Homo sapiens: one gene and its partner. The protein of the gene in region 2 interacts with the protein of the main gene of each other region in a pairwise test. Each region holds a gene or a part of one and is shown on either strand. Other genes may lie near its edges.

Region 1 (4,468 bases), on a different chromosome or scaffold from region 2:
CAGCCAAAGGCCTCTGGACTGATCAGGGCATCGGTGGCAGAGGAGCAGGGTGACAGGCCGCCTTTGGCTGGGCTTTATCTGGGCTGATGCTGAAGCTGTAGAGGCCCTGGAGCACACCATTCACCACCACGTTGGGCAGCGACTCTGTGGGATAGAATTAAACAGGTCTGGCCTCAGACCTGCAGCTCCTTGAGCTCCTGCTCATGGGCTCAGCCCCCACTTGGGAGTAGGAGCCCCTGCCAAGGCAGCAGACAGCAGCTGTCCACCCCAAATGAAGCCTCCGCATTCCCAGGTCACATTCTTTTCACATCAGCTTGGTAAAGAAGTCAGGCTGCTGAAGAAATGGAGACCAGGGAAGCCAAACTTGTTTTCCTTGTGTCTACAAAGCAGGCTCCAGGGGACAGGAGCAGGAGGTAGTGGCTCCAGAGGTGGGCAGCAGGAAGGAGATGCTGTCTGAGGGTCCCAGGAGCCGAGAAATGCAAAGCCCACAACCCAGCCCTGTAGCCCCATATCTAGGCACCTCCTCACCTGGGGAGGGGTTGCAAACATAGGGATCCACATGGAAGCTCAGGACAGGCCGCTGGTGCTGCTGGGAGCTGGGAGGAAACAGGGTCATGAACCATGGGTGCGGGAGGCAGGGCAGAATCCCACAGAGGGGTGGAGACGGGGTTGCCATCACCAGGGACCCATGAAGGAAAAGGTGAGTGGGAAATGGGCTCAGGAGGCACCAAAGGGAAAACAGACTTCAGGGCCCAGGCCAGACAGGCCCAGGCAGCAGGCCTGCCTCCTAGCATATGGCCACTAGGGGGCAGCAGGGGCCAAGCGCGGGCTAGGGCTTTGACTTGCCTGCTGTCGCCAGGCAGGAACTCCCTCAGGGTGCTGAAGAGAAGAGAAACACTGTAAGCTGCCTGGGGATGCCGGGGGAGCGTGAGGAAGGGGTGGAGACACCAGAGCCCAGAACTGCACCTCCCAGGGGACCACTGCTTCTATTTGTAACAAGCCCCAGTTCCGGAGGTGGCGGGGGTAACCAAGTCTGTCCAAAAAAAAGCCCCTCCACCCAGGTCAAGAGAGCTGGTGAGGGCGGTCATGCTGGATCCTGGCAGATGTGAAAAGAAAGGGCTTGCCCTCCAACACCTTTCCTCACCTGCTCACTGCTGACAGCCCCTGGCCCCCGCCATCGGCCCCCCTTACCCCCAGTTGCTAGCCTTGGGGTCTGTGGGGAAGTGCCGAAGTCTCAGGAATTCCAGTAACTCCTTGGGCACCTCCTGGTTCAGGTACAGGATGCCCTGGAGAGGACAGAGGAGACCTGCAATCAGACCCAGCTACTAATTTGCATAGCGCAGTGCCAGTGAAAATGCAGGGCTCTTTGTTCCAAAAAAAGAATTTCACGACAATGACAGCAGAGCGTTGAACCAGGCTCAGGGCCCTTCTGGGCGCTGGGCGCTGTGTGCACAGGTTGTACCCCATGACGCGGCATAGCTTTGCTGTTGGGGGAAGGACCCTCACCCTACATGCCATCAGGAGGGCAGCACAGGACCTCACCATGGAGGGGACAGGACCTGGGTTTCATGGAGCTGGGACTACCTGTGTCCGTTACCTCTTTCAGTCCTTTCAACAAGCCAGAGGGGGGTGTTTGGACCTATATTAGACTCAGAAAATTGATGCTTGAGGTGGTGAATAACATCCCCAAGTTGTGGGTTCCCTCCCTGCCATGCCCCCACACCTCTCTGTCTGGGCCACACCCCTGGCACAGAAGGCCGGGGGGCAACCAACTGTGCTCTCGCATACCTGGATGTAAGCCTCCAAGCCCTGCCGGCGCTGTTCCAACCCTCTGGTCCTCCAGTTGGGCAGGCGTTTCGAGGGGAAGTCGGGCACTTTGTACAGCTTCTTGATCTACTGGAGGTTTACCGCGTGCGATCACAGCATCCCGACTGAGCCCTCAAGCCCTCTTCGCCCCAGCCAGAAGCCCTCCCGCGCCCCCGCCTTCGGGCTCTACTGGGACAGACCCTGGTGAGTGGTGGACCGGCCGAGGGCGAGGAAGGCCCCAACCCACCCACAGAGGCCCGGGGGCTGACCGGCTGCGCAGGGACTGAGGCAGTAATGGGGGTGGCGGAGGCTGGGGCTCGCCCGCCCGCCTCACAGGGCCTGGGCGGGGGCTGGACAGAGGCTGGGCCGGGGCCGGTGGGAGGTCGGCGCCGCCTCACCCGCTTGTGCAGCGCGTGGAACTCGCTGTAGCGCCTTGGCACCGTGTGTCTGCGCCCGCTGCACAGCACCTCCACTCGGAACACCTGGCGGCGCGGGCGGGCAGCGGGTCTGCGCGTGAGGCCCCGCGGGAGGACGCCGCAGCACCTGCGCCTGGCGACGTGCCCACCCTCCCGCTCTCAAAGGCACAAAGCGGCCTTGCGGCGCCGCGGCTGCCCGGGGACTCTCCGCTCCCGCACACCTGGGAGAACCGGCTGGCGGACCTGCCCCTCGGAGCCCTGGGGTCCCTCAAGAGCTCGAACCATGGTCCGCGAGGCTGGCAAATCCAAGCGGCCCCCAAACCCTCGACAAGGTTTCCCCCGACGGTCCAGCCCGCAGCGCTCGTTCACCCAGGCCCGGGCCCCGGGTCCCCACTGAGCGCAGCGCGGGGAAATCCTGCGGGTCCCGGCGCCCCTCCCCATCCAGGGGCCGCGCTCACCATGTGGCTTTTCTCCGGGCTCTGCCTGGGCCCCTCGGCCTCGGGCCCCACCGACGGGATGTGAACTTCCAGCATCCGCGCCCCGGCCCCAGCTGCTCCGCGCGCTCGGCTCGGAGCCCTAACTCTCCCGGAGCGGACTGAGGACCCCGGGGCGGCCGGCTCCGCCCCCTCGGTCCGCAGGCCCCACCCCAGGCCCCGCCCCCAGGCGACCCCGCCCCGGGCGTTCCCTTGCGCCGCGGGTCCTGAGCCTAGAAGATTAGGCGGGACCTGGACGCCGCCCCCGAAGTCTAGTGCGCCCACAGCGCGGGGCAGTGGAGTCAACCGTTTGTCAAACATTGACGGAGCACTCACTGATGCCAGGAACTGGCGAGCGAAAATGTCACCCAACCTGAGTTAAGCGCCTACCAAGGACGGCCTGTGGCTCCAGGCGCGGACGGAGGCGGGGCCCGGGCCTCAGCGCCGGTCCTGGGGCCAACCAGGGACCTGTCTTGGGTTCCTCAGTCCCTTCCCGAGCCTTTCCCTCCTTTCAGCCTGGTCCCTGAAATTGTGATCTGGATTCCCCGGCTGAGGCCACACCTGAGCAAGGCTTGGACCCAGTCCAGCTTTGATGCCCCTTTCCCCAGCATCCACAGGCCCCCCCATTCATTCATTGTTTTCATCCATCCATTCACTCATATCTTCCAACCCTAAGGGGCTCCAGGCTGTTTGTGGGGAAGAGGCAGTTTAGGGACCTAGACTCCGATTTGGACGTCAGACTGCCTGGATTTCAGGAGCTCCGTAGACCTTTGCTCATCTGCAAAATAGGGATAACGTGGCTCCTTCAGGCAAGTGTATAAAGTGAGATGATTTGGCCGGGCGCGGTGGCTCACGCCTGTAATCCCAGCACTTTGGGAGGCCGAGGTAGGCGGATCACCTGAGGTCAGGAGTTCGAGACCAGCCTGACCAACATGGTGAAACCCCGTACCTACTAAAAATACAAAAATCAACCAGGTGTGGTGGCACATGCCTGTAATCCCAGCTACTCAGGAGGCTGAGGCGGGAGAATCACTTGAACCTGAGAGGCGGAGGTTGCAGTGAGCCGAGATCAAACCATTGCACTCCAGACTGGGCAACAGCAAGACTCTGTCTTAAAAAAAAAAAAAAGTGAGATGATTCATGTTAGGCCCTTAACAGAAGCATTGAGCAGCAGCTTGACTGTGGGCTTCTCCTGGATGACTAGGATAAGTGGGCACAGGGCAGTGGATGGGAAGAGAGACTTTGGGGGGTGGCACCGGGTTGCTCTTGTCCACCCCTCCGGGCAGGTTCTTCCTGGATATGTGGCAGGATTTTGATCCAGAACTCTCTCAGGCCATGTGCTGGAAAGGACCTCTGCTCCCACCTCTCAGCCCTGCACCCTTCAGCTGTCGGAGAGCTGCTATCAGCAGCACCATGGCAGGTCCTCTACTCCACTGACTTCCCCCACAAAGGCCCCGTGACATGCAGAGAGGCGAGGCCCTGCCTTCCAAAGCTCATACGTAGTGGGAGGTCTTGGGGTGGGCAGGAGGAAGCAGAGTGCCTGTCTTCGGGGCTGGGGTTGAGGGGACTCACCCCTCCCCTGCTTCTGCAGAGACGCCTCTGAGCTGGAGCAAAAAACCTCCATCCCCAGCCCTGCCCCCAGAGAAGGGCTGAGATGACGACCCCAAAATGGGGCAAACAGGTCTCACCAATATCATGTCCCACATTCTCTTTTTCCAAATTGCATCACACAAGGACCACAGAATCAGGAAGCTGAAACTTCCCAGATTCTAG
Region 2 (3,007 bases):
AAGTCAAAAGTAAATTAATAGAATATTTATTTTAAAGTAAGGATTTTCAACAGTACAAAGACACTTTACTGTTTGATCCAGTCGCCTTTGAGAGCTCACAGTGTCTGATATCAGATTACTATCGTTTTTCAAGATAATGTTAGGAATATAGAAATTTACATAGATTTTATAAATTTTATAGATTTTAAATTGAAACTTGAGATAGGAAGAATTTAGGTGTCTGTTATCTGTTTTTCATGAGTCATTTTTTAAAAAACTTTTTCCAGATGGAAATTACTATCTTTTAAAGATCCTGCAAAATAGTCATAATTTGGACAAATAGAACTTGAGTTCTCTTTCTATGTACACACCTGTGTATGCACACACACACACTGTTTTTAAAACTTTTGAAGCATAAATCAGCATTATTCTACACTGAGGGAAGGATTCCTTTTGTCTTCTGTCAAACATGCTGATCTGATTTGGTATTATCCCCTTATGTGTGACTTTTATTAAGTAATTCTGGTATTTCTGTAGTCATATAGAATAAATTAAGTGAAAGACAGGCTTGATCCAAGAGCTGGGGTGTGTTACATAGATCAGCTCTCAGAATCACTTGATTTAGAGTAGAACACTTAGGCTACTGATTTGAAATGGAGATAAGCACTTAAACAGTTTTAGTGTTTTCAAGTTTCACAAATGTTACAATTCTCTTCTGGTGATTTATCCCTTAATAATAGAATAAGAGGTAAAAATGATTGTTATTAGAATTAAGAAACATTCTGACTAAATTAAGATTGACAGATTTACATACTTGTATGGAATAAAAACACTATTTTAGTTAGTAGGTTGGTATTTCTTGATTTTAAAATTCATGATGGAGTCAAACAAAATTATTGTGAAAATACTTATAACACTCAGTAAAGTTTTTTGTTTTCCTTTATTTTTAAAAACTTCATAAAAGTGCATTGTATACATTGTTCATCCTAGAATTGTGTTTGTCAAACGTTTGTAGTTTTCCCCATCCCTCCCAAAAAGGTTTTTAATTGGTGATTCAGAATATTTGTCATCTACCAAATTAAAAACTGCAGGTTTGCAAACTTGGCACTCCAAGAAAGAAATAGGTGCCATAAAATGATTAAGTGTTGGCATGTGTACACCTGCTGTCAGGAAATAAACTTCCCGTATGTTGCATTTTGGCAGACATGCATCTTAAAAATGTGTTGAATGAAACTGCACCTGCACTCTTTATCTTTTTCAACAGTACATCCTATTTGTGCCTTTAAGTGATTACTTTTGCTTCGATTATCTTTACAGATATATTCGAAGTTAGATATACATGAAATTAAATGGTGGTGCTGTTTAAGAGTGCAGTAATTGGTCTAATCCAATAACTCATTGAAATAGGAGTTTGGTTCTTAACATCAATGAGGAAACAAAACTTGTCTATTTTGAAACATTTAATAACTATAAAAACTTGAGCCTGAGACACATTAGTTTTTCACATTTTACCACGTCATGTCAAAATAATTTTCCCCCATATATTAATAAAAGAAAGTATTAATAAAAGAAATTTAAAATAATATCTCAGTTATTTTTAAAAAGTAAATACTTTCGTGAGAACTGCATTGATGAAACATCTGAACTTTATAATGTGTTTGTGGAATAACTCAACTAAATCTTATTGCATTTAGAACCCTAAAATAGGTCAAAAAATTTATCCTTTGCACAATTAAAAAGTTTCCTTAAAATTGATAGTGATGTTTTATTTACATTAAATTATATATTAAAATGAAAAGCTTAATCTAAAATGAAGGATCTTTTGACTGTCATTTCTTGAATTAAAATTTATGTGGAAAACATATGCAGATACATTTTATTGGCCCCTAACAGAAGACTTGAACCATTGATTTATGCATGCTTGTTATTGCATGTTAATACACAGAATCTCCTTATACAGTTTTTTAAATAGATTGTTTTGGGAAACCTTTTTTGTTATATAATGTTATAGTTTTAAGAATTAACTTCTTCAGAAATTAAAAAAATACTTCTTGAATTTCTTTATGTGATGAGTTTTAACTAAAACTTGTCCTACGGATGTAATCAGTTCTAACTATACATGCTTTTAGCAATATTTACAAATTGCACATTTGAAAAAAAATTGTCTTTTCTAATGTAGTTTACGGTGGCGATACCTGCCTGCCTTTTCTTTTGCTGCGTTGGCACAGGCATTGTGCTTATTTTGTTGTAAATGGTTCCAGTATTTTATCAGTTCACTAGGCTGGAACTGATGAGAGGTAATTAGGTGGCTGTATTTACAGCTCGAATAAGAGACTCGCCAGTGATTGAACACAAACTCATTGGGAGGGGGTACAGGATCAATTCTCAACTTGGCAAGACAGATCCCTACATATACATCTTCCAAGTGCAAACGGCGGATACCTAAAGAAACTTTAAAAATCTTTTCTGCCAGATCTCCAGAAAAAACATAACCAGTTCCAGAACAGAAGACAGGATAACGCTCACTTGGGTAGAGGTCTGGTGGCATGTACCACTTGCTATCTTTGTTTCGATTGGGTGCATATCCTCGCATTAGGTAACCAGTGAAATAGTTATGTCTGGGAGGCAGATCTGGCTTCAGTAACTTATTGATTAAATATTCAGTGTTGACAAACATGTCACTGTCAGTTTTCATAACATATGGAATATGTGGACAGTATGTTGCAACCCAGTTCATGCCCATTAGTGTTTTAATGGTCAAATTATAGTACGTATCTAAGTATTCCTGTTGAATTATATCATGATATTGTCTGCTTTCTTCCAGTATTGCACGTTGAAGGTAGCCATTTAGCTTAATACTTAAGCCCAACAAAAATATTCTTGTGATTTGAATACCAGGTGCTAGACTTTCATTGCCCCAAGTTTGCCGAATAGCTCTTCTAGCTTCTATTTGTCCAGGCTCTGCAGCTATTAGTAGTATTAAAAAAGGACTTTTCTCTTGGCATTTTTCAGGCTCATTAATAATATA

The links.
Region 1: the proteins of B3GALT2 (region 2) and SNX22 interact in a two-hybrid assay, tested with the Homo sapiens proteins (one large-scale study listed by BioGRID and IntAct).

What each region holds. Positions count from the first base shown.
Region 1 is NC_000015.10:64,150,063-64,154,530, reverse strand, and holds the start of SNX22 (sorting nexin-22), read right to left. Parts: upstream 2,801-4,468; 5' UTR 2,756-2,800; coding exon 2,681-2,755; intron 2,289-2,680; coding exon 2,205-2,288; intron 1,894-2,204; coding exon 1,789-1,893; intron 1,287-1,788; coding exon 1,192-1,286; exon of another isoform or gene 1,145-1,191; intron 880-1,144; coding exon 847-879; intron 597-846; coding exon 529-596; coding exon of another isoform or gene 380-528; exon of another isoform or gene 151-379; intron 145-150; coding exon 23-144; 3' UTR 1-22. UniProt on the Homo sapiens protein: May be involved in several stages of intracellular trafficking. Interacts with membranes containing phosphatidylinositol 3-phosphate (PtdIns(3P)).
Region 2 is NC_000001.11:193,178,145-193,181,151, forward strand, and holds the end of B3GALT2 (beta-1,3-galactosyltransferase 2), read right to left. Parts: coding exon 2,150-3,007; 3' UTR 586-2,149; downstream 1-585. UniProt on the Homo sapiens protein: Beta-1,3-galactosyltransferase that transfers galactose from UDP-galactose to substrates with a terminal beta-N-acetylglucosamine (beta-GlcNAc) residue. Can also utilize substrates with a terminal galactose residue, albeit with lower efficiency.